Homo sapiens: one gene and its partners. The protein of the gene in region 1 interacts with the protein of each later gene in a pairwise test. Each region holds a gene or a part of one and is shown in the gene's direction. Other genes may lie near its edges. The genes, in order: DYSF, ANKRD1, DGKD, CMYA5, ZNF23, XIRP2 and COL12A1.

Region 1 (4,696 bases):
AAAGCAAGAATCTTAAATCTCTATTTATAATACTAAGTGCAACAAATTGCAAAAATATATTTCTATTCTAAATCATGGTAATTTAAGCAGAAGTCCTAGCTCTAACCACTGTTTGCCCCAAAAGACAAAATTCTAGCCCCCATACTACTATTCCCCAAACATGTTCATATTGCCTTTGTTCTCTTTATGGAAATACCATATGTTTATTTTAGACACTTTGGAAAATATATTAAAATGAGGAGATTAAAAATCACTCATCCATCTTCCCATTGCTATTAAGAATATATCCTCCCATATTATGCAATTTACAAAAAAAAAAACAGTTGGTCAGTAAATAACAGTTGATTCTAAAGTGGAGCCAGTAAATATCTTATTTTTTTCCATAGAATTGCCTTAATATTGTAAAATTTCATATTTTAAAATATCTTACCTAATATTTGGAAGCATAGACGTTCTTGAAGTCTTCATTTACTTACAGCTCAATGGCAAAAATTCTTAATTTATTTCTCAGAATGTAAGAAAGCATTGCATCTTATAAAGAATAAAGACTATTTCTGGGGTCACTTCACTGTGTAAGTTCGACCTCTGAGGGAATTGTCAATAAAGAATATTCAAGCCACTTAAAAATGCCAGTATCAATGGGGTCTCGGGTGGGGCTTGTGCCAATGGCTGAATGACATAAATGGGGGCTGTATCTGCCCACCCCTGGGGTTTAATGTGGGTAGCCGACGAGGGGCAGCCTGGCAGCTCTTCTATGGAGCTGTGGAATTTTATAGATGTAAGGGGCCTTGGTGGGAAAATATGATAGTTCGTATAATGCTCTTCCTAATTCCTTTTTAATACTTTCCCCAAGAAGCCAGTGGTGAGATGGTCCCTGAGATTTCTGACTCTTGGGGTGGATGGTGGGTGGTCCTTAACTCTTCCCCCTTCCTCCTGCTCTTTCCTCCTTCTGGCTTTCAGATCAGGGTCCAGGTGATCGAGGGGCGCCAGCTGCCGGGGGTGAACATCAAGCCTGTGGTCAAGGTTACCGCTGCAGGGCAGACCAAGCGGACGCGGATCCACAAGGGAAACAGCCCACTCTTCAATGAGGTGGGAGACATGGGGCATGAGGGCCAGAACCTTGGTGGGCCTTCCAATCTGGAAGCCCAGTGCAGACACCTGGCAATTCATTCAAGAGTGTTTACGTATGGCGCTGACCTTGGGTGGTGAGATGTGCTGGCTCCCAAGGAGGTTATCTGTGGGACTGGAGAAAGGGCTCCTGCTCTTACTTCTCCTGCTGCTCCACATCCCTGTCACCCTATAGGGCCAGCCACCCACCCAACCCTGAAATGACCACGTCTGTGAGGCCAGGGGCAGATCACCCCAGAACTTGTCCAATCCCCAGAACTGTGCCCAATCCACATTTTCTGAGGGGACTAAACTGCTAGGCGTGGAGGCTTGGGGGTGGTGGTCCTCCCTCTCCCTGGCCTGAGGGATCAGCAGGCACTGATATGTCTCTCTTTGCTCTGAACCAACAGACTCTTTTCTTCAACTTGTTTGACTCTCCTGGGGAGCTGTTTGATGAGCCCATCTTTATCACGGTATGTCTCAGCAGTCAAAGTGTTCTCCGTGGGCTGTATGTATGCACATAGGTGTCAGTGCACACGCGTGTGTGTTTGTGCACGTGTGTGCATGTGCACGTCAGTGTGAATGCGTGAATGCGTGTGTGTGCCTGTCGGTGTGTATGTGAGTATGTGCGTGAGAGGGAGACGTGTTAAAGCCTGACATATGGATGATGTGGAGTAACTCACAGTCAGGCTCTACGGGTCACAGAAATGCCTGCAACAGCTCAGCTGGCAGGCAGCAGCTGCGGGAGAGCCCACTGCTCAGCATCCCCCTGGGGCCTCAGGTCAGGGTCCTTAAATCACTTGTGGCAATGAACATTTAAGGTTCCATCTTATTTTGTTAATCCACGTGCCTGCTTCTGACTGAGATTCTCTTTCTCTCTGGGCCTTGGCTCTTCCCCCATCTCCTCTGAAGCGCACTGCAGCCTAGTGGCTCTAAGTGTAGGCTCCGGCACTAGAGTGGATTCCAGCTCTGTCTATGCCGTGTAGGGATTGTGTTTTCTGTACAAGTCTCTGTGCCCCTATTTCACCTGTGAAATGGGGATAATGACAGTATCTGCTGATGGGGTTCCTGTGAGGGCTAAACACTGCTTAGAACAGTCTCTGGAATTGAGTAAGTGTGAAGTGTTGGCAGTTATTGTTTGGGAGGGAAGAGCTATTGGGTTGGCCGTGTGGGCCACATGTTCCCTGTGAATGTGAGTTTCCATGATCTTTCTCTGCAGGTGGTAGACTCTCGTTCTCTCAGGACAGATGCTCTCCTCGGGGAGTTCCGGGTAATTGCTTATTTTCTATGAAAGCAGTCAGTTCTCACTTCTCCGTGTTGGTGGAGCCTCTGTGGACCATGGGCAGGGGCTCCAGAGATCCTGTGTTTCTCTGCTTTGGGAAAATATAATTTCAAAGAACAACGCCAAGCCCTCTGCACAGCATCTCCTTTCACCCCAGAAAACCTCTCCACAAAGGTAGAAGAGAAAGAAAGCACTTTTTGTCACTGAAGAGGCCTTAAACCAGAGTGAGATGTACATCACAGGCAATGATCCACTAAGATGCTGCAAAGACAGAAAGAAATCTCACGCTAATTTAGCCAGCGGGTCCAACCCATTGCCCACCACATACGTTCTCAAGAGAAGCTATGCCCCACCCTCAGGTCAGGGGACTTTACATTTCAGACCTCCTGAGAATGACATTTGTATACTAAAGCTGACAAATGGCTTATTTAGTTTCTTAAAAAGATGTATAGCACCTTTGGTCACACCGAGTTCATCCCAAAGTCACCTGGTAATCGGGGTGACCATCTATGTTAGCTAATTTGTTGTGTCCAGAAGACCAAACAAAAATCAAACTCATATTTTTATGACAGGAAGTAGTTTTACAACTTGGAGCAAGGTGCGCACGGGAGTTAGGCTCCTATCTTCCGACAGAAGCTGGGACACAGGGGAGCCGTCTCCCTTGGTGTTTATATTTCAGACGTCCTGAGAATGATATTTGTATACTAAAGCTGACAAAAGGCTTATTTAGTTTCTTAAAAAGATGCATTTCAAAGAGACAGGGAAAGTGTAATATATTTACAAGTTTTCTAAGGTAAGTGTTCTGACAAAAAGAGAGGGGAGGGAAGTACTTCTTCCCTTATTTCCAACAAGCAGAATCAAGACCCTTATTTGTAATTTGGATTTTCCCCCACCTCTGGGAAGGCCGTGTGAGATCTGAGTTTGGGCAGCCCTCCTCCTCATCCTGGCCATCTTGGGCCAGTGAGACCCAGCGCTCTCTGCCCTGACATCACTCTCACCCTGGGATGGGAGTGGGGTTCAGATATGGATCCCTGGGGGAGGGAGAGGCAGTGGAGAGAGGGGAACCCTGCCCCAGCCTCCTCACTTGTCCCAGACAGTCCAGAAGTGAATAGTCCTCTTCTGAGAACCGAGAGCCAATGGATTTAACAGATTACGTAAAGTAAAGGTAACTAGTAATTGCACAGACTAAAGGAGACCTGTATGATTTTTTTTTTTTTTTTTTTGAGATGGAGTCTTGCTCTGTCGCCCAGGCTGGAGTGCAGTGGTGTGATCTCAGCTCACTGCAACCTCTGCTTCCCAGATTCAAGTGATTCTCCTGCCTCAGCCTCCCCAGTAGCTGGGATTAGAGGCGTGTGCTACCACGCCTGGCAGTTTTTTTTTTTTTTTGGTATTTTTAGTACAGATGGGGTTTCACCATCTTGGTCAGTCTGGTCTTGAACTCCTGACCTTGTGATCTGGCTACCTTGGCCTCCCAAAGTGTTGGGATTACAGGCATGAGCCACCGTGCCTGGCCTGCATGGTGTTTTAATGTAATTTGATGTAATTGTTACTAATTTTCTCATTTTGAAATTTTCAAGGATTTCTCAAAAGGAAAGAAAGAGCACAAGCTTATTTTCCCCTCTCCCCTCTATCCAAGTATATCATGCCTTCCTTCTTTAAATTTGTATTTTAAATATGAATTTAAAATAAGGGGCTTGGTTCTGCCTGTTGTCAGAAGTTACCTTAGAATTATTTATTCTGCCCAATAAATAATTGCTGGGACCAGGCGCAGTGGCTCATGCCTGTGATCCCAGTGCTTTGGGAGGCCAAGGTGGGCAGATCACTTGAAGTCAGTAGTTCAAGACCAGTCTGGCCAACATGGTAAAACCCCGCCTCTACTAAAAATACAAAAATTAGCTGGGCATGGTGGTATGCGCCTGTAATCCCAGCTACTCAGGAGGCCGAGGCAGGAGAATCGCTTGAACCTGGGTGGCAGAGGTTGCAGTGAGCCAAGATCGCACCATTGCACTCCAGCCTGGATGACAGAGCGACACTCCATCTCAAAAAAAAAAAAAAAAAAAAAAAAAAAAAATTACTGGGTTGGACCTGATGGCTAGATCAGTGGGTGAGATTTCTTTGTCTTTGCGCTGTCTTCTCAAATCATTGCCTGTGGGAAGAAGTCACAAGATAAAAAACTAAGTCTGTTTACCTGGAGAAGCATTTTTTAAAAGAATGAGCTTGAGCCCAAGTCATTCTGTAACAAATTAAATCTTAATTATGTTTTGAGTCTTGTTCTGAGAACCCAAGGGTTAAGTCAAAAAATTATTT
Region 2 (4,068 bases), on another chromosome or scaffold:
TTCCACCTGAAACAGTTTCCCCAGCTGTTGCTGTGTATGCCAGGAGCCTAATAGGAGAGTTCAGTGGTCCAAAAAATAAATAGATATTAGATCAGTGATACGGATTGCATTGTTTTTTGCACTCATATACATCTGGCTGATTTTTCAGTTTTTCTTTAACTTCTTAGATTCTTGGGATAAGACTTTTAATGTGGGCCAAAAAGTCACCTTTAGAGATATATTATTAGCATCATCTTTGATTAAAACCAAGCACGTCAACACTAGATAAGAAATCTGGAGATTGGAGTTCAGGGGCCAGTTGTACCACTACTTGGCTATTTGGTTTTGAGCAGCTAATTTGCATCCTCTGGGCTGTGGTTTCCTTATCTGTAAACATGGGGCATTGGAGTGAAATAACGCCTAAAGTTGTTCCAGCTCTAATAGTTCATTAGCCCATTCAAATAAAGCCAATTTATCAGAAATCACTAATCTTTTTGTATTCTTTCCCCCATGAAGTGAAATTGGGGACCGCTTCTGAAGTTGAACTAAAAACATGTCTCCCATTCTCCTAAAAATGAATGGAAACTTTTTGATAGTCTAGCAACAGTCCCAGATGCAAGAAAGCTGTCTGATCTGCATGGTAATGCTACATGAACAAGGAAGGTGCAAGATAGAAGAAACGGAGATGTCAGCATTTAGATAGTTTTGAGCCTTTAAGTTCACACTCCTCAACGTAGGCCTTTGAGCCCTTGGAAATGTATATTGGAGGAAGCTCAAATATTAGTTGCAGGATAATTGTTCTGATTCTGCAATTTTAGTTAACTTTGACATTTCTATTCATAAAGAAGCACTTGAGTTTCTATCAGTTAGGTCATCAGAATCTCCAGCTTCATAGCTCTTAAAAGGGTTTACACACATTTTTATATTTATTGCTATCTCTGTTTAAAATCTCTGTTCTGATAGTATAAACGGACAGCTCTTCATAGAGCATGCTTGGAAGGACATTTGGCAATTGTGGAGAAGTTAATGGAAGCTGGAGCCCAGATCGAATTCCGTGATATGGTAAATATATTTCTTTGCTTGGGAATGAGCCAAAAGAAGTAGACTATATGAAGCTCCGGAAAACCTCCAATGCAAAACCGAGCTGATTGGATTGAAAATTGATCTGAGAGAACTAGGCAAAAGCTCATTTCTCCAAATAAAGGAAAGTTGGGAGATGAGAGTAGGTCATGTGAAAATATTTTCCATACATACTGAAAATAGAGGAATATTTCAGGGAAAAGAAGGAAGTGAAAGCTGTTAAACTGAATTCAATATCCTCATCAGCGAGTTAGTCATTCATTTTCGACACTTGCCTTTCAACAGCCTTGTCCCTCCATTGTTCACAGGGCAGCCTGCTTATGGTTGGCTGCCAGCAACATATACGAATTCTCTAGCTGCACACTTTATATGATAGATGCCAATTGCTACCAATGAGATTTGGGGCTAGACTGCATATGAAATGAATTGCATCTATGGAAAGTAGCTGCTATTCAGACCTCAATAATTCAATCACTGTGATTTCTACGAAGACCAGTATGCAGCATAATTTATGAACTGAAGATTGAGCTGGGAAAATTCTTTATGTATTTAAATGCAGCTCATTTTGACTTTATAGCAAAGCGGCAACGGGATATCAAAGAAATCCAAGGGACTTGGCCAAAATTGAATCCAAAACATAAACACATTGAAAAAAAAATCAAGAAACAAAATATGAAGTTTGCATGGAAACTAAAAATCATGAGTGTGGGATTAAGGCCAGGGGCATACCAACCACATAGATCAGTGAGGAGAGGGTCTCCTAGGGGTAACTATACACGTTACAACTGTAGACACAAGTGACTACAGTTGAGGTACAGAGGCTGTGCTAGCAAAAATGAGCAGAAAACCCACAGAAGTAGAGAAAGAGCGACAGGGACCCTAGATGAGGTGTCAGATCCAGATTAAAATATTTTGGAAGGGACTACTTTTATTCTGCCAAAATTTTTAAATACATGTGTTTAGAACTTTTGTGTACATTTGACAAAAGAAGTTAGAAGTTCCAGGCAGAGGGGAGTTTGACTGTGTATTCTGCCTCTTATTAGTTGTGTTTCCTTGGGCTAGAAACTTGAACTTTTTGGAACCTGGTTTTTCTTATCTGCAAAATGTGCATAGCAACACCTACCTCAAAATGTTGCTGGAAGAATCAAGGTGTCTAAAGTGTAGCACCATGTTGGCATGAGAAATGTCTCAATAAGTGGCCATTCTTATTCTTTTAAAACATTATTAGATTTATTAAGAGCCTCCTAATAAGACACACATATGCACACACACACACACACACATGTAATTTAGCTAACACATTTGGTAAGAACCTTCGACTCCAGTTAGAATTGTCAATCTAGATGGGGACAACTCATTATTTTCACGGATGCCCTAGCAACCAGGTTCTAATTCCCCAGACCACATTCTCCTTCACATTGTCGGGTCTTCCCTCCCGGTATAGCTTGAATCCACAGCCATCCACTGGGCAAGCCGTGGAGGAAACCTGGATGTTTTAAAATTGTTGCTGAATAAAGGAGCAAAAATTAGCGCCCGAGATAAGGTATTCCTTCTTCTCCTTCTCCCTTCATTCACCCCCTCCCCCTCCCTGTCCCCCATCCTTCTCCACTTCTCCCACTCTTCCCCCTCCCCCTCCTCCTTCTCCCCCACCCGCCCTTCCCTCCTCCCCCACCCCTCCATCTCCTAACCTCGCCTCTCCATTAAAGTCATCTGGAGGCCCATGCTGTGTGCAGGCACCCTAGTGACCACTTCTCCCCCTCGCACATGTCTTGGGGTCTGGGACAGCCTCTGTCCTCATTCCTAGCGAATCAGCAGCGTTTTCCAATTTTCCAGTTGCTCAGCACAGCGCTGCATGTGGCGGTGAGGACTGGCCACTATGAGTGCGCGGAGCATCTTATCGCCTGTGAGGCAGACCTCAACGCCAAAGACAGAGTGAGTAGCTGGACACGCTCGGGTTTCCCAAAGCTTCATTGCTTTTGTATTTGGAATCACTCCCCCAAGCCTGGGTGCCCTTGCAGGACCCACTTCCTGGCCTCAGACCCACCTTGAACCTGTTGACTCTGCTTCTCTAGGAAGGAGATACCCCGTTGCATGATGCGGTGAGACTGAACCGCTATAAGATGATCCGACTCCTGATTATGTATGGCGCGGATCTCAACATCAAGAACTGTGTAAGTACTGGAAACAAGAAACACCGCTTGCAAGCTTTCCAATTTCCAGGAGCATTTCTTAAATAGGTGAAACGACTCCCACAATGGCAGTATTTGAGGGGTCTTCGATGGTCTAAATGCCCCTGCCCATTTCCCCAAGGACAGTGTTTATCTTGGCTAGGACCCAGTTCACATGGCCAGAGATGAGGGAAGTCATAGATACTGCTATGACCTCAGTGCCTGATACAGTGCATAGTAATTCTTTTACAATTTGGTCTTGGAAATGAAAGATAGTCAAAATTTGCTCATCCCCACAAACACCTAGAAGTCCAATCTGCTTTGGCCATTTCTGTCTGTGCAAGGGCTGAGGAAGTTAGAAATAAAGGCATCCACCATTTCCAAAATGTCCTAAAATTCCACAAGGGTCAGTGCAGCCAGTGAACTAAGGTTAATCAATATCCAATCTGAGTAATTCAGAAAGTCCCTTTCCTCCTTACAGCAATGTGAAATGTCACCATTTTCTTCCAGGGGTAGCTGTGCTTTTGCCTGTATTTTTTTTCAGATAATTTCTATCCATTCTCCACTTGGATTTGTCTTCACATCTCTCAAAATAATTTCCTATATTTAGGCCCTGAAAATTCTTGTATAAGTACATATTAATTTAACTTCATCTGTAAGCAGGGAACATAACCAACTTTTCCTCATGGTCTCAATTTCCAGACAAACACCATCTAATATAAGCTTAAAAAATATTGCCCAGAGGAACAGGTATAAATTTCTGAAGAAATAATTTTAAAGAAGCTTTTGAAGAATCACTTTACAAAAAAGAGTGGGGGGGGGGGGAGGGAAACTCAGTCAT
Region 3 (5,230 bases), about 160 Mb from region 1:
TCGGTTCTGGTGGCTGGAAGTGCGAGATCACGGTGTCGGCAGGGGGAGTTCCATCGGAGGCCTTTCTCCTTGGCTTGTAGATGCCATCTTCTCCCTGTGTCTTCACATGGGCTGCCCTCTGTGTGTGTCTGTGTCCTCATCTCCTCTTTTTATGAGGACGCCAGTCATACCGGATTAGGGATCACCCCTGTGACCTCATTTTAACTTCATTACCTTTTTAAAAACCTTAACTCCAAATGCAGTCACATGCTGAGGTACTGGGGGTTAGGACTTCAACATATGAATTACGGGAGGACACAGTTCAGCATGCGACTGTGCTGCAGAACTTTCTGGGGGGACGGGGGAAGTGTTTTATATTTGTGCTATCCAGCGTGGCAGCTGCTAAGCCACATGCGGCTACTGAGTCCCTGAAATGTGGCTCCTGTGGCTGAGGAACGGAATGCTGAATTCTAACTAATTGAAATTTAAGTAGCCACATGTGGCTAGTGGCTATAGTACCCTGGGGCACCATGGGGCCTTCGGCCTGTCCCGGACTGTTCCTGCCTTAGGCCTTGTCCTCCTCTGTCCTGGCCGTGAGCCCATGCCCCTGGCCGTGTCCCCATGCCAGATGCCACTCTGCAGCCCCAGGTCACTGCCCAGGGCGGCGCGGCCAGCGAATGCCTATTGGCAGGCGAGGTCTCTAGCGGCAGCCCTTTGACAGGGAGAGGGCACACCTGGGCAGTCCCTTACTGATTTGCCCCTCAGAGCAGGGCAGACAGATGGACAGCATTTCCTCTGGGTGGCACCAAGCCCTGCTCCACCTGGATGGCACCAAAAACTTAGCTGATCTCATCTCCAGCTTCGCTTCCTCCTCTTCTGCCCAGAGCAGCGCTGGACCCCACCCGCCCACCATCCAGCAGCCCCCCTGGGAAACATGGGACTCGTTCTGGTCACCTCTGTCTCCCTCCAGTCGCTGGTCACTCCCCACCTGGATCTCAGTCCACGTCTCTATCTCTCAGCCCCTCGGTAATCCAGGGCGTCCACCTGCCCTGATAACTTCAAAGCCCGGATCACAGGCCCCAGCGTGGTGACCCAGCCCCGCCCAGGGTTAAATCCCTCAAGGGCTTCCTGCTGCCTTCCATCCCCTTATCTGGTTTCCAAAGCCCGCTTCGACCTGCCCGCCCCGAGGCTCATATCTTAATGCCATTTTCCTTGCTCTAAGCACCAGCTTCCCTTTCTTCCCCCGTCTTCGCCCAACACTCGTTCTTTCTTGCCTCCAGGCCTTTGCACAAATCTGGTCTCTGCCTAGAACATGGTTCCCTCTCTAGTCACAACTCCTGCTCACATTTTCCATCTCTCCTTAAGAACCGTTTTCTCCAGGAAGCCTTCCCAGATGGAGCGGTGCATCCCAGCTCTGGCGTCCCGAGGCCCGTCCCAGTACCGGGGTCTCTTTCCAGCACGCGCGCGCGCATTCGAGCTCGCCCCAAACTCGGCCACACAAGGCTGGGCAGGACAGACACAGCCCCAGCCTGCCTGAGGTTACCTACATTCTGATGCGGAAGAGTAGAGATGTTTTAAGAAGTGAATATAGAAACAAGAACACAAACGGCGTTCCAGAAATAACACACAGAAGCCACGGCCCGGAGAGGTGGGCGGGGGGCCCGGGACGCTTCAGGTGGGGGCGGGGAGGGGCCGCGCGGCGCCGTCTGCAGCTGCGCGCATGGCCGGCAGGGGGCGCGGCGGGGAGAGGCGGGAGGCCGCCCCCACCGCCCCCGGCCCGGCCCGCCCTCGGCCCCGCCCCTCCCGCCGGCCCCGCCCCGCCCCCGCCCGCGGTGCGCGCGCTGGCCCGGCAGCATGGCGGCGGCGGCGGGCGCCCCTCCGCCGGGTCCCCCGCAACCGCCTCCGCCGCCGCCGCCCGAGGAGTCGTCCGACAGCGAGCCCGAGGCGGAGCCCGGCTCCCCACAGAAGCTCATCCGCAAGGTGTCCACGTCGGGTCAGATCCGACAGAAGGTGAGCCCGCGGCGCGGCGGCCCGGGCGCGCGCCCCTCACGCCGCGGCAGCCCCGGCCGAGGCCCGTGGCCCTGCCCGAGCGGCCGCCCAGGCCCGGCTCGGCCCGGCCCGGGGTCCCGCGGGCGTCACCGCCCCTGTCGAGCGTGCCCCGCCGCTGTAACGGGCCGGCGCCCCGGGCGGAGCGCGCGGCCCCCGACGGACGGCGGGCGGCTGTGGGGCCGGGCGGGGGGCGCGCAGGTGGGCGCCCCGGGCGCCGCGCGCTGGGCGGGGGGCGCGCGCCGAGTTGGGCCGCGAGGACCCGGAGGAAACTGAGGCCTAGATGCAGGGGACTGCGCTCGTGCCACCGAGCGGGTCCCACGCGGGGGCTCCCGGCTGCGCCCCGCGGGCGTCCGCGGTCCCCAAACCCCGGTTCTGCACGTTTCTCAGGAGCGGTCGGGTGGTGTCCCGCGAGTGCCCTGCAGACTTCCCTGTGGTGCCCTCAGAAGTCCGCTCGGACCCGGGTGCGAGGGATCACCCCTTCACCCCTTCATCCCAAAAGGGAAGGAAGGGATGCGCGTTCAGTGACCGTCTCTCTCAGCAAAGCCGGGACCGCGCACCCGCTTGGCACCCAACTCTCCACGGAGAACTCCTGACGCTAAATGTTAGATAAAGACGCACGTCCTTTTTGCAGGAGGAAAGTTGCACCGTTTGTTTTCCCATTGTGCTTCCTATTGAAAACAGCTTACGGTTTTTGCTCCAGGTGAGCCCGCCCGGTTAGAACACTGCTTCCTCAGGCAGGTGGCTGGACAGGTGGCTGCGAGCAGGCTGGGTCCCTGGGGCAGCTCTGGCAGATCCGGTTGGCACGGACTTTCTCCTCCTGCTGCAGTGCGCTTTTCCTCCGGGGCGGATTAGGTTCAGCCGTTCCCTTCACCGTGGGAGCCTTCTCTTCTGTCAGCCTTTGATACCTGCGATGGGGGAACCTGAGGTCCTAACATGTTACAAACAGGTTTGTTGTGAAGTGCTCCAGTTATTCAGCAAATAGGTACCGAACACCTGCTTTGTTCCGGGTATAACAGTAGCAGTAGTGATGATAATGATAGCAATAGCAAATAACAATTCTTTAATAAGCCTTCTATGTGCCAGGCACTTTCTTGGGTTAGCTTTACAGCACTTGACATGGTTAGTTTATTAGTACTGGTGAGAACCCAATAAGTTGGATGCTATCATCTCCGTCTTTTGGAATTGGAATAGAAATAGAATCAAGGTTAAATGACTTGCCCAGGGTGTCACAGGTCGTAAATGTGGATGTGTGTTGGAACCATGGTCAGGACCGTAAGATGGAAGGCAGTTTCTACACCTAGGGATTCTCAGTCTAGTTGGGAGATGGACGCCTGTGCACCTGACATGACAACATTGTAAGTGCCGCGGAAACTCGGGGCAGAGACCTGCCCTGGGGAGGCAGGAGTGGTTTCCTTTAAGGTGAGATCTTGAGGGATAAAGAATTCACCAGGCTAAGTGGGTAAGAAATGGCCTTCTACATATTTGAACCTTGCGTCTAGAGCTTTAGGCACAACTGCGAAATGATCAGAAGTTGGGCCAGAGGTGGATCACGTTGATTAGACTTATTAGTTGGAAGGGTTGGTTAGGGCTGAATTTCGAAGGGGTGGTCCTTTGAGGGGTTTGCTTTTTGGCCTTGGGCAAGAGGTGGCCACAGAGGATTGTTCAAAGTATGGGGGTGATGGATCAGATGTGCTTTTGGGAAGATCTCCACATAGCCCTAAATGATACTGATAGGAGTTGCTTTCTCCTGTTGCCCAGGCAAGGTACTGACCAGTGTGGGGTAGATCATGTGATTTACAAGGTTGATTAAGATCAAGATTGTGTTGAGAGAGATTTGATTCCTGGGAGATTCCAGTGTTTAGAATTTTGTTGGTTAGGAGGTGTTTTTGCTTTCCTTCTTTTTTCTCCTAAAACAATAGCTGCTATACCAGCTGTTCTGGTTGAGGAGGAGTGATGGGTAGACTGTTAAAAATACACCCCGAGGACTTAGAGTTTCTGAATACAGTCACATCTGCTGTACAGATAGCTTAAGGCTGATTTTTCTTCTGAGTTGTTAAGAGATTGTCAGAATGTGGGAATGCGAGGTTGACTGTATGTAATAGCTCCATTTTTTTTTTTTCCAGCAGATAAGCCATTCACAAAATTCCTCTGGTATCTATGGTACATAATAGAAACATCAAAAATGGTATGGGGTAGCAGTCTGAGTCTAAAAAGAAAAACAGAACTCACCTTAAGTATTTGGAACAGAAGGAATGTAATCTAGGGGAGTGGTCACACAGGTGATGTGAGAACTGAGAATGCAGGCTGCAATGAGGCAAGCCGGAGATGAGGCAACAAGCAGGAAACTGCTGCCACCCCTAAGTTGGAGGGTGAAGGAAGGAGATGGCATTTCAGACTCCAGGGACAGCTGTCACCCACCAAAAACTGGGGTCACAAGGGGTCCATCTGGCAGTGGCTGGAGCCTTGCAAGGGCACAGCTGCTGCTGCGGATGTACTGTTCCCCTCCTGCCTGGGAACCCTGGCCTTGCTGGGGTCACCTCCTCCACAACTTGGACTGGAGCAGAAGGACAAAGAATGGATCTGAGGACAAGCTGGCCCAGGACCAGAACTGTATGTATGTCAGGCTTTTAAAATATTAGTCTAGTGCAAGTCAGAGCTGTCTTAATGAAGAGAAAAACAAAAGAGAATGTCTTAGGGCAGTGCTCCTCAAATTTTAATGTGCAGACACATCTCCTAGGGATCCTGTTAAAATGATGATTATGGTTGAGTAGGTCTAGGGTGGGTGGGGCCTTAGAATGTGCATTTCTTTTTCTTTCTTTCTTTCTTTTTTTTTTTTTTTTTTGAGACAAGGTCTCACTTTGTCACCCAGGCTGGAGTGCAGTGGTGCGATCTCAGCTACGGCAACCTTTGCCTCCTGGGCTTAAGTGATTTTCCTGCCTCAGCCTCCCAAGTAGCTGGGACTACAGGCAAATGCCACCATGCTGGCTAATTTTTGTATTTTGTTGTAGAGATGGAGTTTCCCCATGTTCCCCAGGCTGGTCTCAAACTCCTGAGCTCAAGTAATACACCCACCTCAGCCTCCCAAAGTGCTGGGATTATAAGCTTGAGCCAATGCACCTGGCAGAATATGCATTTCTAACAAGCTCCCAGAAGATGCTGATGCTGCTGGTCCATGGACCAGACTTTGAAAAACAAGACCTTA
Region 4 (4,083 bases), on another chromosome or scaffold:
AGTGAGACCCTCTAGAACTCCTTCACCCTTGTCTCTCAGGACTAGGGCCTCTTGGAAGTTGAAAGAGACCCAAGACTCTTCTACTAATTGGGAACTCTCAAAATACTATTATAAAAAATAAAGAAATGCCAGTTAACAGGGTTATTAAAATTTACTCTAAGGACTTACATTTCACATAGTAATTCTTTTAACAGACACAATTGCAGTGACAAAGGCAATGACTTTATATATGCCCATATCTGAAAGAAATGTCAAAAATTCAAATTTATAAAGCCCTCTGTGAAATATGAGGCCCTATTCAAATGGCCCTCCTGGTCTTGTCTGTCACCTTTTCCTTCTTGGCTGCTGGCACCTTCCTATCTCATTGTCAAGGAGAAGCCACCACACTATCTCCACATCTGAGTATCTCTATCCCATTCTCCACCATTAACTTTAATTTTAATGGAAGTGGCCACACATGTCTAGTGGCTACTATATTAGACAGGGCAAGTCTAGAGCCTGGCCCCTGACTTACTTATCCACGTAACATCCTAAAAGTCACCCCCATGTCCTGTCCAAACCCAAGAGGCCAATGGTGATGTTCTCTGCCACATACGGACTTCTTCAGCCACCTTACCATCACTGCTGCTGCCCTTACTGTGTGGATTTTTCTCCTTCTTTTTCACCTATTCAAGTCCTGCCTGTCCTTTCTGGCTGAGTGTGAGCCCTGTGCTCCCAAAGCCTTCTGTAAGAGCCCAGCTCACACTGCCAGTCCCCATCATTGCTACCTGAAACGTTTAGTCTGTCTTGCAGGTTCCAGAACATCATAGTATTCTGGCATCTCTCTCATTAGCAAGGCATTGAAAAGGTCCTTTATCAACTCAAAAGTCTCACTTATCTCCCCACCACCGTGAACCTCTGCCCTTCCACGTGAGCTTCTTTCTGCAATGAAGTTGCCAACTTGCCATCCCCTAAATACTTGCACTTGAGCTTCTGAGCCTTAAGACAGTTGTTGCAAGTCTTGAAGATCCTCAGCCCTCCCTGCCAGACCCGTCGCTTACCCAGATTCTTAGGTCCAAACTGCCCTGGTGTTGCTGTGCTCCCACCCCTCCAGCCTACACATCCGTCGACCTTTCCCTCATCTCTCTTCTTCCATCTCTCATTCCACTCCTTCCGCTACTTTCAGGGCCCCATTCTCAGTTTCTAAGACTACTGGGAGAAAACCCCAAACTTGTGTTACTTTTTTACATAGAGCAATTTAGCTTTTCTGGTCAGCAGTTTCTCCTTTCCAGCCTGGCCTTGAACCTTTCCCTTCACAACCAAAACAGCTTCATTAAATGTGTCTAGTAAACACTTGAAGATCTACACCCTGAGAGGCATTCCCAGCCGTGGTCCGAGTTTCAAATGTGGGCAGTTTTTCCTTCCTGCTCCATACAGTATGGGATCCCAGAGGGCAAGGACAGCACTTCATGTCCTTCACATGCCCCAGAGTGCCTAGTAAAGTGCTGGATACATGGATATGCACAAGGAATAGTTGTTGAGTTGAATTTGTCTGAATTAAAGAGAGGAATCAAAGGCAACCCCGCTGGTGGCAAGGCTGCAGAAAACCTTGAGAAAATGAAAAGGAGAGTTGGTTTGGGGAAGGGGGAGCAGAAACAAAGGATGAAGTTGGCAAAATAATGAAATATTCCTTAAACTTCATAAAGGCCTTTATGTAAGTTACCTATAAAATTTTAAAACTGTAAAATTAATACATTGTATGGAAGGCAAGCTTACGGTACTTTTAAAAATACATGGCAGCCTCAAAGGAGTTTTATTCAAAAGAATGACACGCCATGAATGCGGTAGTTAAAACATGTGGGCAGCTGGGAGAGAATTAGAATGTGGAGATAAATCACAAGGGAGGCATATGTTGGCTATTCTGGGACTGCCTCCTAATGTAGGAGGAGCAAAATTATTAAACATGCTCATCTGTTGGGATAAGCTCTGCATTTTAGCATCTAGAAGAAATCTAGTGAAGTATTTGGGACAGCATTATTGCAACTCCTTATTGTGAAGTGGAGTTAATAACTGAAGAATTGGTTATTCCCAAGTGACTTTCCTTTTCAAATTCCTTGAGATTTCCAGAGTTTTATGTTTCCCATTCGCTTTCATTTCAGATACACATTTTTCTACAGTGGTATTGTGAGTGATGTTCATGTGACTGAGCGTCCAGCCAGAGTGGGCATCCTGCTGGACTACAACAACCAGAGACTTATCTTCATCAACGCAGAGAGCGAGCAGTTGCTCTTCATCATCAGGCACAGGTTTAATGAGGGTGTCCACCCTGCCTTTGCCCTGGAGAAACCTGGAAAATGTACTTTGCACCTGGGGATAGAGCCCCCGGATTCTGTAAGGCACAAGTGATCCTTGGCTTTCAGAATTTGCAAGAACAGCGATTTGAATTTTGGGGGGGTCTGCTGTTCATTCCTTTAGGTGCTATACATTATTCAAAAAGTCTCCCGCGCATTTGCACTAATGATGGCTGCATGCATAGCAATCAGCATGTGAGCAAAATCGACAAGAAAACCTTGACTTTACAGAGCAGTGTGTGAGTAAACAGAATGAAAACAACAACCTCCACTCTTTAGTTTATATAAGTTTGAGTTCTTTCCTAAATTAAAAGATCTACACTTGAGTTGGGAACCGAAAGAGAAAAATGGACTTCCATCTGTTTTACTGGTAAAGGAAATCCTCTGATGGACAGGTCAGAGTGAAGGAAGGTTGTGCTGGTAAGACATCTCTGACGAAGAGCCATGGATGCTTTCCACAAAATGTCACCTCGCTGCACTAAAGGATGATGAATCCTAATCATTAAAGGAATTGTTTCAGCTGATTTAAATTTATAATGAACTCTTTTGTAATAATGTATACTGTAGAACATGAGTCTCTCCTCCCTAAAATTTTAAATGTAGAAAAGTGCTATATATTAGAAATTTCCATTTTGTTAAATAAATGGTTAGAGTCTATAAAGCCAGTCGTGTTATGTGAACTTACTCCATGTAACTTACTGGCCTGGCATCTCTGGAGCAGGACAAACTGCAGAGTAAAACTCATTACACTTCAGTGCAGTGCACTACTATTGATTTTCCTGTGAGAATTTTACACACACACACACACACTTTAAAATCTAATCACTCTCAGACCATAGTTATAGTCAATTAACAGAAGCTGGGAATCTATTTTTACTAAAATTAAGTGGTCATTTTAAGATATTATGTTGAATCCCTCAAAATCTTTCTAAAATATGTGTGCAAAGTGGATAAATCTAGAATGTATGTCAAGATGATTGTGCTTGTCTTCTATAATGTAAATGTGTTGATCATACTTGTAGTTTTTAAAAAATACTTCAAAACTTGAATTCAGATGTTTTCTTTTTTTTTTTTGAGGTGGAGCCTCACGCTGTCACCCAGGCTGGAGTACAGTGGCATGATTTCGCCTCACTGCAACCTCCGCCTCCCAGGTTCAAGCGATTCTCGTGCCTCAGCCTCCTGAGTAGCTGGGACTACAGGCATGCGCCACTACAACTGGCTAATTTTTATATTTTCTTTTTCAGACGGGGTTTTGCCATGTTGGCCAGGATGGTCTTGAACTCCTAACCTCAGTTGATCTGCCCGTCTCGGCCTCCCAAAGTGCTGGGATTACAGGCGTGAGCCACTGTGTCCCGCCCAGATATTTTCTTGAATTGAGAAATAATATCCTTCTTTCTGAATATATTCTAAAATCTCTTGTTTAATAGCTAGAAAATCTGAACTGGATCTGTAACTGCCTTACTAGAGCCCTTGGAGGCCATTACCACCCTGATTGCAGTTCCAGCAGTTGCTGGCAAGATGGAGTCTTGGTGAAACTGGAGAAGTAACTTGCTGCTTTGTGGAGAATGTTAGTTTCACTTTCTCAATCCTTGAAAATGTTATCCTCAGGTTCTGACTGCTCAGCCAGCCGTGCTCATTATTACTGGTTGTTGTTGTTGTTGTTGTTGTTTTGGTGTGAATGTGTAACCAAGTGAATTTTAGAATTTATCTCAGTTTGGCTTTCTCCAAAAGTAGACCAACTGCAAGGCTCAGT
Region 5 (3,771 bases), on another chromosome or scaffold:
TTGCGTGACTTTGAGTAGGTTATTTGAGTGTTCTCATCTCTGAAAATGGGTTAATAATAAAAGGAGGTAATAGTACTATCTTGTGGGTTGAGGTTTAAATGAGATAACACATATCAAATACCTAGCTTATAATGTGTGCTCAGTTCAGTATTTTTATTTTGGTTTTGGGGAATACAGCTGTACACAGGGAAGGTAATGTGGAAGGGAGGAAGTGCTCTTAATTTTTGCTTCTTAAATGTGAATGTGTAAAGGAATCCTGAGGTCTTACAGATATGCAGTAAGTGTGGAGTCTGCATTTCTATGAAGTTCCCTGGTGATGTGGCGATGCCAGTACTTCTGGTTACCAGACCACACTTGAAGGAGCAGGGCTCCAATTGGTGCCAGCAGAGTAGCTGCCAAATGACTTCTCATTCCCCCCGAGGCCCCCCGTTATTTCTTATATTTAGGGTCTGTGAGATTCTCTTGAATTTTTTCAGTGAGTCTTCATTTTTCTTAGATGGTTTCTGTAGGTTTTTATTCCTTTTGATCATTCTATCAGACGATATCTGACCAAAGAAGGCATGTTTTGGAAATGGAGTTTGCCGTATAATGGCCTTGACAAATATAGGGAAAAAAGTGATATTGTGAGGTCTTAATCAAAGGACCCTGTATTTTATTCTGTAGACAGCTGACTGTCCTGAAGTCTTTGACTTTTCCAGGAAACCCATCATGATCCTAGCTGGTGATAGAAACATTAATGTAGTCAGTGTGTGTGGGTTAATTGGGATGAGGAATCAAACAGGCTCTAGGCAGGCAGAAGGGAGGGCAAAGGGCATGAGGCCCATGGCAGCAGTGTTGACTTTCTTTTTAAAAATCTTCAGAAGCCCAGTCAGTGATACCTGTTTAAGACTCATTTGCTGTAACTGTGTCAAATGGCCATCCTCACTGCAAGAGAGGAAAGTGAAAACGAGAGATATTTCACCTATCATATTGAGAATAATTAAATTATATTCAATGTTGGTGAGAGTGCAGCAAAGCAGGAATAGACTTCTGGAGAGGATGACTAGACATCTGATAGTATAGATGTCTTAGTCAGTTTGGGCTACAATAACAGACTGCCATAGATTGGATGGCTTATAAACAACAGAAATTTATTTCATACAGTTCTAGTCCAAGATCAAGGTTCAGGCAGGTTCTGTCTGGCAAGGGCCTGCTTCCCGGCTAATAGACAGCTGTCTTCTCACTGTATCCTCACATGGTGGCAAGAAAGGGAGCTCTCTGGGCTCTTTTTTAAGGGCATTAATCCCATTCATGAGGGTTCTGCCATAGCTCAACCTCCTGATACAATCACATCAGGGGTTAGGACTTCAGAATATGAATTTGTGGGGAGGACAAACATTCAGTCTATAGCAACAGATGAGTATTATTTTTTTAGTTGGGAAGAGACCAGTATTATTTAGAAAGTGCTTGCTGGGGAATCCAGGCAATTGGAGGGGCTTATTGAGGGCAATTATGAAATACTGGGGCAGGGGGCATATTACATGTGGTTGAGGAGTGATGAAAGATGAAAAAATATGAGGCAGCATTTTGGGACTGAGCTTTTGAGAAAGTTGGGAACAAATGCAGAGATGAGTAGTTCTAGTTCTAAAGACTATTGGGATTATAAAAAGATTTTTAGGGAATGATCAAGTTTAGGATTAGAGGAAGAAGTGAAAGGAAAAGGCAAGGTTAATGCAGCAGTATTTGGAGGGGAATGGGAAGAAAGGGGATGAGATGGACCTCAAATAGAGCCTGTCTAAAGTAGAAATGAAGTTGAAGGACAAATTTTGGAAAGCCCACAGTTAATGTTCTAAGGAAAGAAACAAAATTATTTCCATTTTGCTCCCTGGTGCTGCTGACTGTTGTCATCTTCCAAGTTGCCATATTCTGTTGGATCCTGTGCCTTTTCCTTCTTCAGCATTTTCCATTTTTTTTTAAGTAAGGAACTGAGTGCTATAGGAACAACTAAGAAGAAACTGCAGGGTGTAGAAAAGCATGGTGTGATTAAAAGAATGCTGAGCTGGTGGACAAGACCTAGAATTTTATTCCACTACTGTCACTTTTTTTTTTTTTTGAGATGGAGTCTCGCTCTGTCGCCCAAACTGGAGTGCAGTGGCAAGAACTTGGCTCACCGCAACTTCCGTTTCCCGGGTTCGAGCAATTCTCCTGCCTCATCCTCCCGAGTAGCTGGAACTACAGGCACGTACCACCACACCCGGCTAATTTTTTGTGGTTTAGTAGAGACGGGGTTTCACTGTGTTGCCCAGGCTGGTTGCAAACTCCCAAGCTCAGGCAATCTGCCTGCTTCAGCCTCCCAAAGTGTTGGGATTACAGGTGTGAGCTACCGTGCCCAGCTGTCACTTTTAACCTTCATGTGATTGGTTATGTTCTCTACAGTGGCCTTGTATTAGGCACAGTGGGAATGGTGATTTTTTTTTTATCATTACTTTCATTGCTTTTCATTACTTTCATAATATTGACACCTATTCAACAGTACAGAAAGTGTATAAAGTAGGGAAGCAAGTCCACTAAACTTCCTATGCCAGTTTATTTAGTTTCTTATGGATTCTTCTAGAAGTTTTCTAGGTATGTACAAATATATATATCTGTCTTTTATATTTTTCTTTACACAGCTGAAAATCTATTCTATATACTGTTTTTTCAACTTGTTTTTCCATTTGATTGTATCTTGGATGTCTTTTTACGTCAGCATATATGGATTTATTGTATTCTTTTACTAGTTAGTTACAAATTACTTATCCCACCTTATGGAGAAACCCTATGTTTTTTGACCTAGTCTGGTGATTTTAAGGAGCCCCCTGATTATTATGGTCTTTTATAGCACAGTTCTCTTCTTTTTCCTAACATGGTTCTTACATGACATTTTATGTTTTCTGTTTTTTATAGTAGATATTCAGACTGACAATGATTTGACAAAGGAAATGTATGAAGGAAAAGAGAATGTATCATTTGAACTTCAAAGAGACTTTTCCCAGGAAACAGACTTTTCAGAAGCCTCTCTTCTAGAGAAACAACAGGAAGTCCACTCAGCAGGAAATATAAAGAAGGAGAAGAGCAACACCATTGATGGAACAGTGAAAGATGAGACAAGCCCCGTGGAGGAGTGTTTTTTTAGTCAAAGTTCAAACTCATATCAGTGTCATACCATCACTGGAGAGCAGCCCTCTGGGTGTACAGGATTGGGGAAATCCATCAGCTTTGATACAAAACTCGTGAAGCATGAAATAATTAATTCTGAGGAAAGACCTTTCAAATGTGAAGAATTAGTAGAGCCCTTTAGGTGTGACTCTCAACTTATTCAACATCAAGAGAACAACACTGAGGAAAAGCCTTATCAGTGTTCGGAGTGTGGCAAAGCTTTCAGCATTAATGAGAAATTAATTTGGCATCAGAGACTTCACAGTGGGGAGAAACCCTTCAAATGTGTGGAGTGTGGGAAAAGCTTCAGCTACAGTTCCCATTATATCACACATCAGACAATCCACAGTGGGGAGAAGCCCTATCAGTGTAAGATGTGTGGGAAGGCCTTCAGTGTTAATGGAAGCCTAAGTAGGCATCAGAGAATCCATACGGGAGAGAAGCCCTATCAGTGCAAGGAATGTGGAAATGGCTTCAGCTGTAGTTCTGCATATATTACACATCAGAGAGTCCACACTGGAGAGAAACCTTACGAGTGTAATGACTGTGGGAAAGCGTTCAATGTTAATGCAAAATTAATTCAACATCAGAGAA
Region 6 (3,583 bases), about 96 Mb from region 1:
GAAACACCCTATCCACACAGTTAAAATGCATTCATTTTCCAAAACTCTTGAAGTAAATGCATTTAACTGAATGTGACATTTGGTGTGACTGTAGTCTGAGATGCTAAAATTGATTTTTTTTTTTTTTGGCTAAATCTAATGTGCATCTCTCACACTATATTTTTTCTGACTTTAATTGACAATGTCGAACACCCTCATGGCAACATTTTTTTCCCTTGGTTTCCATAACAACAGAGTATAATGGCTTTTCCCCTACTCTTTGTGTGCTCCTTCTCAGGCACCTGTGTGGGGGACTCTCTGTCCATTACCAAGATGTAAGAGGTCCTCACAATTATGTTATGGGAATTTATTCTTCTCAACGTTTCTCTTCTTTCTAGTGAATCACATCCACTCCCATGATTTAAATAATCTATGTGGTAATGACTCTGAAGTCTGTACTGCTAGGCCAAATCTCTCTGTGCATCAGATGCTTATATCTCAATGACTGATATACTTCTCCAATTAGATTTCTCATAAGTACAGCAAACTCAATATGCCCCATTTTCTTCTATCTAAATTCCTTCTTTAACTTACAGTCTTTATGCTACTGTATCAGTAAATGACATTAACATTAACTCAGTGACCAAAGCATGGAGTTATCTTTGGCTCCTTCCTTTCCTTCATTCCCTACATTCAAGCCGTCACCAAGTCCTGCAATTTCTGCCCCATAAATACCTCTTAAGCTATATACTTTTCTCCATTCCCATAGCAAGTATCATCTATTAGCACCACTAATTTCATTATCAAAACATTTAAAAATTACATCTGCCCTCCCCATTTTATAAATTATTGTACCACATCTTCAGTTTCAGATCATATAGCCACTACATACCGTGTTATCTCCCTCTTTGCCCTTATTTCATCTTAGTTTTCAGGTTGCAAGATATTAATGCCCACCACCAATGCTTACCTTGATGTTTCTGCAGTTGTTCTGATATTAAAGCTTGGTTTCTAGTAGACTCTTCTAAACTCTTCATGGAAACAATATTCGTTGAATTCTTACATGCTGATAACAATTTGTCTGTGACCTTTATAACAAAAAGTCAGTTTTGCTGAAATTAAAATCTTTGGCTTATACTTTCATTGTATTCTTTGATACATTATTTTATTTTCTTCTGGCATAAAGTGTTGGAATAGCTTGATAACGATCTAATTTTATTTTCCTTATAAGATGTATATTTTTTCTTAAATATACCCACAGATTTTTTTCTTTTTATTATTTAAAATCTAGCAATTTTACTAGATTAGTTCTTGGCATTGGTCATTCTTCACTAGTGTCAGTTACCCAGTGTGCTCTTTCTGTATGTTGTTGCATGCTTTTTTGTATCAAGAAAGTTTGTTTTAATTATAACTATTTAATATTTAATCTGTTTTATTATATAGTTTTTTCTTCAAGAATTCCTATTATCTATACCTTGAATGTTTTTTGCCTATTTTTATTATCTGTCTCTTTCTCTCAAATTCTTTTCATATTTATTTCTTTCTGATTATTGAAAAAGTTGTTTTCATTCTTCTGTTTCTCTTAAGCCACTTTTTATTGTGTTTATTTGCTCTTGTATTTCTTTTAGTTTAGTTTTGTTGCTGATATTTTTATCTTTTATTTCTATTTTTTCTGATTTCTGGCACCTCACTTATGAGATTTTAAATTCTGATTCATGATGTTCTTTCAGGTCTTTTATCATGTTCTTAATGTCTTTTAATTCATTTTGAAGTCATAGGTTAAATTTTTGATATATTTTTAGGGCATGTTTTTCTGGCATGTTTTCATTATCTACAGGGATATTATAATGCCCTTTGCACTTTTATTTTCTTTTAATAACTTCATATATTATTTACCTTGGTACATTTCTGTTTCTCATTTTTATGTAAAATTAGTTTTCCCAAACCTTAGAAGGATAAAAATCAGGATGGTTTTTCTAACTTCACAGAGCTACCTCTTTTAGTTTTCATATGCTGATCAAGAAAATAAGGCAGCTTGATTTCCAGAATTCCCTGGCTTGGCTCCTCTTCTCCATATTTTTCAGAACCTTCTCTTTCATTTCTGTAATCATTATCCTGCTCAATCTTGATTCTACTCTCCTATTTTTTCTCACTTTGGGATTCTGTTTAAAAGGGGAGCCCAGTTTTAGGAGTTCAACCTCACTAGCCTCTTCAAGTCTTCCTTACCACAGGGACCTTGCACTCATTGTCTATTGGAGATCACAAATCTCCTCAAAGTTTCAGCTGCTGTTCTCTGATTGGCATGTGATACTTTCCAGGAAATATTAGTTGGTTATTTTGTGGTCTCATATTTTCAGGTCCATCAGACATCTTCCTTGCTCCCTCTGCTATCACCAATACAGATGAGACCATCATGCTGGCCTTGTGACTGTTGGTGGTTTCTCCTTAGTTCTTTGTATTTTGATGTTGAGGGGGCTATCTTGTCACTTCATTTAGTTGTAAATGTTCCCCATGGGTTTTAAGTTTTGCTATCTTGTTGATGTATCTGTTTTTATGTGTAGATTCATAGATATTTCGAAAACTATGCTCCTGCCTCTGACTAGAGTTCATTTTAATTTTAAATCACTCAATTTGTTAATCTCCTTAAAGAGGCCACATAAGCAATTGTTAGGCACACCTTCCAGCTCGTTCAAAATCCAGTTAACAAAGAAGCTCATATTGTTGATTTGTATGTGTTTGCTACTCAGGATTTATTGGAAATTACAACGCCTCACATAAATCATTGAATTAGCACAAGTTCAGTCCTATCACTCTGCACCATGTATAACCATATGTGCATTACCCTATAATACCTATTATGCCAATACCTGACACACATCATAAAATTCTAAACACTGCAAGACATACATCATATAAAGTATTGGTGGTAATATTATCTAACAGAAATGTTCAACTAATAGGGCCATTCCCATTGCTAGTAACTTAAGTTTACTAGTCTGTAACTCATTGAAATAATTAATCCCCAATTCCCTATGAACTTACAGTAAATACGAACTGCTAAGTGTTCTTTTTCTTTTTGGCAGTTTGGGAAATTATGCATCACTTCATGGACAAATATACTGTAAACCTCACTTTAAACAACTTTTCAAATCCAAAGGAAATTATGATGAAGGTTTTGGACATAAGCAGCATAAAGATAGATGGAACTGCAAAAACCAAAGCAGATCAGTGGACTTTATTCCTAATGAAGAACCAAATATGTGTAAAAATATTGCAGAAAACACCCTTGTACCTGGAGATCGTAATGAACATTTAGATGCTGGTAACAGTGAAGGGCAAAGGAATGATTTGAGAAAATTAGGGGAAAGGGGAAAATTAAAAGTCATTTGGCCTCCTTCCAAGGAGATCCCTAAGAAAACCTTACCCTTTGAGGAAGAGCTCAAAATGAGTAAACCTAAGTGGCCACCTGAAATGACAACCCTGCTATCCCCTGAATTTAAAAGTGAATCTCTGCTAGAAGATGTTAGAACTCCAGAAAATAAAGGACAAAGACAAGATCACTTTCCATTTTTGCAGCCTTATCTACAGTCCACCCATGTTTGTC
Region 7 (3,500 bases), on another chromosome or scaffold:
AAGTCATTTTATGACCTTAAGGAAGGGGGCCCACCAAGATGAATTTGATCAGTGAAAGTTGATTTTGGTAGGAAACTCTCTCTTGCCTGTTTTTCACAGGCTCTTCTTATTCCATAAGGCCTGTTAAGTAATGAAGCTCAGTACCTGCAGACTGGTGTGGGCCTTAAACCCATAACTCACTCTTAGAGAAGTCTTAATCAATGTTTTCCAAAGTGCGGTACTGAGGAACACCTGCCTTAGAATCACTTATGTTGCTTGTTAGAAGTGAGTTCCTGCACCATGCCCTAAGCTTAGTGAATCATTGACTTTGGAGATAAGGCCCAGAAATACAGATTTTTCAAGGTGCCCCACAGGCAATTCCAGTTTGCACTGAAACCTGATTATCATTGCCTTAGATATACAAAAAATTGTAGAATTATCTAATTATAAAAAAGGTTTTCTTTTGAGTGATGTCACCTGGTAAATCTCAAGACTTTATTTCAGAGCCATATTAAACTTTAACAACTCTTTTATATTTGTAGTAATGTTTGTGGCTTGTAGGTCAGCATTTTGTGGAAACAGTTATTTATCAGGGACCATTTTGTCCTCGATGATTAGACTGTCTTAATTTTATTTTTAGGATTCTAATTAGATTGTTTCCTTAGAGGGGTTGCAGAATGGAGATGGATTTCACTAGACACTAAGAGAAAACAGTTTCACTCTCTCATCCGTCCTTTATTGGGTTTCTTACTAACAAGCCTTATTTCTGCTTGTAGGTCAGATGAACAGATTCAATCAGATGCTGAATCAGATTCCAAATGATTACCAGTCCAGTCGCAACCAGCCAGGCCCGCCGGGTCCACCGGGACCTCCTGGTAGCGCAGGAGCCAGAGGAGAACCTGGGCCTGGGGGGCGGCCAGGCTTCCCGGGCACACCAGGGATGCAGGGACCCCCTGGGGAACGAGGTAGGCATTTCTGGCTTCTGTATTGGGATAAAGGAAGGAATTTGCAAATGTAGGAGTTGGGACAGGTTGAAGGCATCTGAAAGGTGACCTAGGCAAACTGCTTTCCCTGGTCTTGTTTGGACAGCCTCAGAAGAGCTGTTAGGCAACTCATAGGCCATAGAGATCCATGTCTTAGAAAAATGGTATGTTTTTATCAGATCTCAGTAAAGATAATGCTATTTTCTGACTTTTGTTGTTTTTAATGGGAAAAACTCTATCTTGGCAAACTAAATCAGCTACCCAAATCTTATTACTCTCTGTGACTGCGGCAAGAGTCGAGCAGCAACTGAATGTTCTTAGGCAGCCCTAGAGTTTTAGATCCAACTTATTTTGGTTCCTTTATTCAGGGTCTGGCACTGGTCTTGTATGTTTGTTTGGCTCTAATTTCATGGTATAGATAACTGCAGTTGAAGGAAAAGGAGAAAAACAGGACTATTTGATTCCAGATATTTCAGGATTCTGGGTATCCACTTTTGTCAAAGGAGTACTTAATACTCTAGAGAAAACCTACATATTTCTATAATTCTACTGGTTTGGCTGCTGTACTAATAGGGCTACTAAAGATAAAATACCTTTAATATGTTTTTCAATGAGATATTATAACAATTTCTTCAGGATTACTGTTCCTAATTACTATTTAAAAATATATTAGACATGTTTGTTTGCTTCAAATAATTTTTCCCCTGCCTTGTAGCCAAATTTTTTCTTGGCCATAAATCTAGAATTACACAAATGTCTAGAAAGAACTTGGCTTAAAGAGTGAACTTCTGTGAAAAATTAGGTTCTGCTTTCACTAAGGAAATGAATTACTTGAATCAAATATTATCAGTTAAGATGAAAATTACATGCTTCCAGATAATTTTTCCCCTGTGCTTTCTCTTTTTCTCCCTCCTTAGGTTTGCCAGGAGAGAAAGGTGAAAGGGGTACTGGATCTTCAGGACCTCGGGGGCTGCCTGGCCCCCCAGGTAGGTTTGCTAGTATTTTAAACAGGCAAAGACTATAAATACCGAGAGGGCACACCATCCCGAAGAGATTCACAACTTCATCCTGTTATTCTTTTTTTTGTTTTTGAGACGGAGTCTTGCTCTGTCACCCAGGCTGGAGTGCAGTGGCGCGATCTTGGCTCACTGCAAGCTCCACCTCCTGGGTTCACGCCATTCTTCTGCCTCAGCCTCCCGAGTAGCTGGGACTACAGGCGCCCGCCACCACGCCTGGCTAATTTTTTTTAATTTTTAGTAGAGACGGGGTTTTGCCGTGTTAGCCAGGATGGTCTCGATCTCCTGACCTCATGATCTTCCCACTTTGGCCCCAAAGTGCTGGGATTACAGAAGTGAGCCACCGCTCCCAGCCAACTTCATCCTGTTATTATAGCATAAAGCATTCTTATTACCATGGCATATGTTTTAGCAAGAAGTTCAACCTCCATAACTTCATTTTCATGTTCCCTTTGTTAAAAAAATGAAAAGTTTCTATTAGGCATTAACTATAACATTAATATATGATGAAATGAATTTTAGTGACACAAAGGGTTACTATTTCCCCTTTCTGTCTCCTTCCTTCCTTCCCTTTTCCTTCCTTCCTTCCTTCCTCCCTTCCTATTTGTTTTTTTTTTGGCCTCATAGACTTTAAAGATGGTTATATTTCCTGTTTTTTCCAGTAGTCTTCAATATGGGGCTATTAGACTGAGAAAACATAGCCTCACTAAAAGGGCCTGAGATATTGGTAAATTTCATTCACTGCTCTCCCAAAGCATTTTTATATTTTGGATAGGACTACTACATGTCTGTCTGATGCATTTTGTTTACTAGGTTGTAAATGATTTCTTTTTTCATTATAAGGCACATGATACCCTTGCAACCAAGGACAGCCCTATGGCTAAATCTTTCCATTTATGTTAACTATAACTATTGATCCAGAAACAATATTGCTTTGCATAGGCTGGAGGTGTGGAGCAGACGCTGCCTTCTTTTGATGGCAGCTCAATGTAGCTGCTTAACAGAGCTGTTTCCTTCAGGTGCTCTTTTCTCTGTGAGAGTGGGAGCAAACCAAAGAACTCACTGATATCTCTGGTTTGGCTGAATTTTTGCTAAATCAGGTTTTCTGGAATAAAATACTTCTGGCATTAACTCTGATGAGTCACTGGTAAGAAAGTTCCATCACACCTTGGTTCATATTGGGTATTTCTTAAGGAAACATTTTCTTACCATACAATAGTAAATTGTCTAATTTTGAGACAGTGGAGGTGCCACTTAAAGTATTGGTGGCTACCTCAGGAGTTGTATTTGACAAGAGGGGAAATATATTTGTTTTAACTCCACACTAGGTCCACAAGGAGAATCCAGAACAGGTCCACCAGGGTCCACAGGTTCAAGAGGTCCCCCTGGCCCCCCTGGCCGTCCTGGAAACTCAGGTATCCGAGGACCCCCAGGTCCTCCTGGATACTGTGATTCTTCTCAGTGTGCCAGCATCCCATACAACGGGCAAGGCTATCCAGGTACGTTGTTGCCATTGTAGGAA

Evidence for each region.
Region 2: the proteins of DYSF (region 1) and ANKRD1 interact in a two-hybrid assay, tested with the Homo sapiens proteins (one large-scale study listed by BioGRID and IntAct).
Region 3: the proteins of DYSF (region 1) and DGKD interact in a two-hybrid assay, tested with the Homo sapiens proteins (one large-scale study listed by BioGRID and IntAct).
Region 4: the proteins of DYSF (region 1) and CMYA5 interact in a two-hybrid assay, tested with the Homo sapiens proteins (one large-scale study listed by BioGRID and IntAct).
Region 5: the proteins of DYSF (region 1) and ZNF23 interact in a two-hybrid assay, tested with the Homo sapiens proteins (one large-scale study listed by BioGRID and IntAct).
Region 6: the proteins of DYSF (region 1) and XIRP2 interact in a two-hybrid assay, tested with the Homo sapiens proteins (one large-scale study listed by BioGRID and IntAct).
Region 7: the proteins of DYSF (region 1) and COL12A1 interact in a two-hybrid assay, tested with the Homo sapiens proteins (one large-scale study listed by BioGRID and IntAct).

Annotation. Positions count from the first base shown.
Region 1 is NC_000002.12:71,514,663-71,519,358, forward strand, and holds part of DYSF (dysferlin), read left to right. Parts: intron 1-960; coding exon 961-1,089; intron 1,090-1,517; coding exon 1,518-1,580; intron 1,581-2,326; coding exon 2,327-2,377; intron 2,378-4,696. UniProt on the Homo sapiens protein: Key calcium ion sensor involved in the Ca(2+)-triggered synaptic vesicle-plasma membrane fusion.
Region 2 is NC_000010.11:90,914,705-90,918,772, reverse strand, and holds part of ANKRD1 (ankyrin repeat domain-containing protein 1), read left to right. Parts: intron 1-942; coding exon 943-1,041; intron 1,042-2,503; coding exon 2,504-2,602; intron 2,603-2,892; coding exon 2,893-2,991; intron 2,992-3,131; coding exon 3,132-3,230; intron 3,231-4,068. UniProt on the Homo sapiens protein: May play an important role in endothelial cell activation. May act as a nuclear transcription factor that negatively regulates the expression of cardiac genes. Induction seems to be correlated with apoptotic cell death in hepatoma cells.
Region 3 is NC_000002.12:233,352,686-233,357,915, forward strand, and holds the start of DGKD (diacylglycerol kinase delta), read left to right. Parts: upstream 1-1,808; 5' UTR 1,809-1,833; coding exon 1,834-1,989; intron 1,990-2,444; exon of another isoform or gene 2,445-2,938; coding exon of another isoform or gene 2,939-2,974; intron 2,975-4,415; exon of another isoform or gene 4,416-4,602; coding exon of another isoform or gene 4,603-4,638; intron 4,639-5,230.
Region 4 is NC_000005.10:79,797,232-79,801,314, forward strand, and holds the end of CMYA5 (cardiomyopathy-associated protein 5), read left to right. Parts: intron 1-2,138; coding exon 2,139-2,385; 3' UTR 2,386-2,991; downstream 2,992-4,083. UniProt on the Homo sapiens protein: May serve as an anchoring protein that mediates the subcellular compartmentation of protein kinase A (PKA) via binding to PRKAR2A. May function as a repressor of calcineurin-mediated transcriptional activity.
Region 5 is NC_000016.10:71,449,040-71,452,810, reverse strand, and holds part of ZNF23 (zinc finger protein 23), read left to right. Parts: intron 1-2,095; exon of another isoform or gene 2,096-2,217; intron 2,218-2,925; coding exon 2,926-3,771. UniProt on the Homo sapiens protein: May be involved in transcriptional regulation. May have a role in embryonic development.
Region 6 is NC_000002.12:167,254,795-167,258,377, forward strand, and holds part of XIRP2 (xin actin-binding repeat-containing protein 2), read left to right. Parts: intron 1-3,062; coding exon of another isoform or gene 3,063-3,583.
Region 7 is NC_000006.12:75,087,554-75,091,053, reverse strand, and holds part of COL12A1 (collagen alpha-1(XII) chain long), read left to right. Parts: intron 1-755; coding exon 756-944; intron 945-1,879; coding exon 1,880-1,948; intron 1,949-3,306; coding exon 3,307-3,477; intron 3,478-3,500. UniProt on the Homo sapiens protein: Type XII collagen interacts with type I collagen-containing fibrils, the COL1 domain could be associated with the surface of the fibrils, and the COL2 and NC3 domains may be localized in the perifibrillar matrix.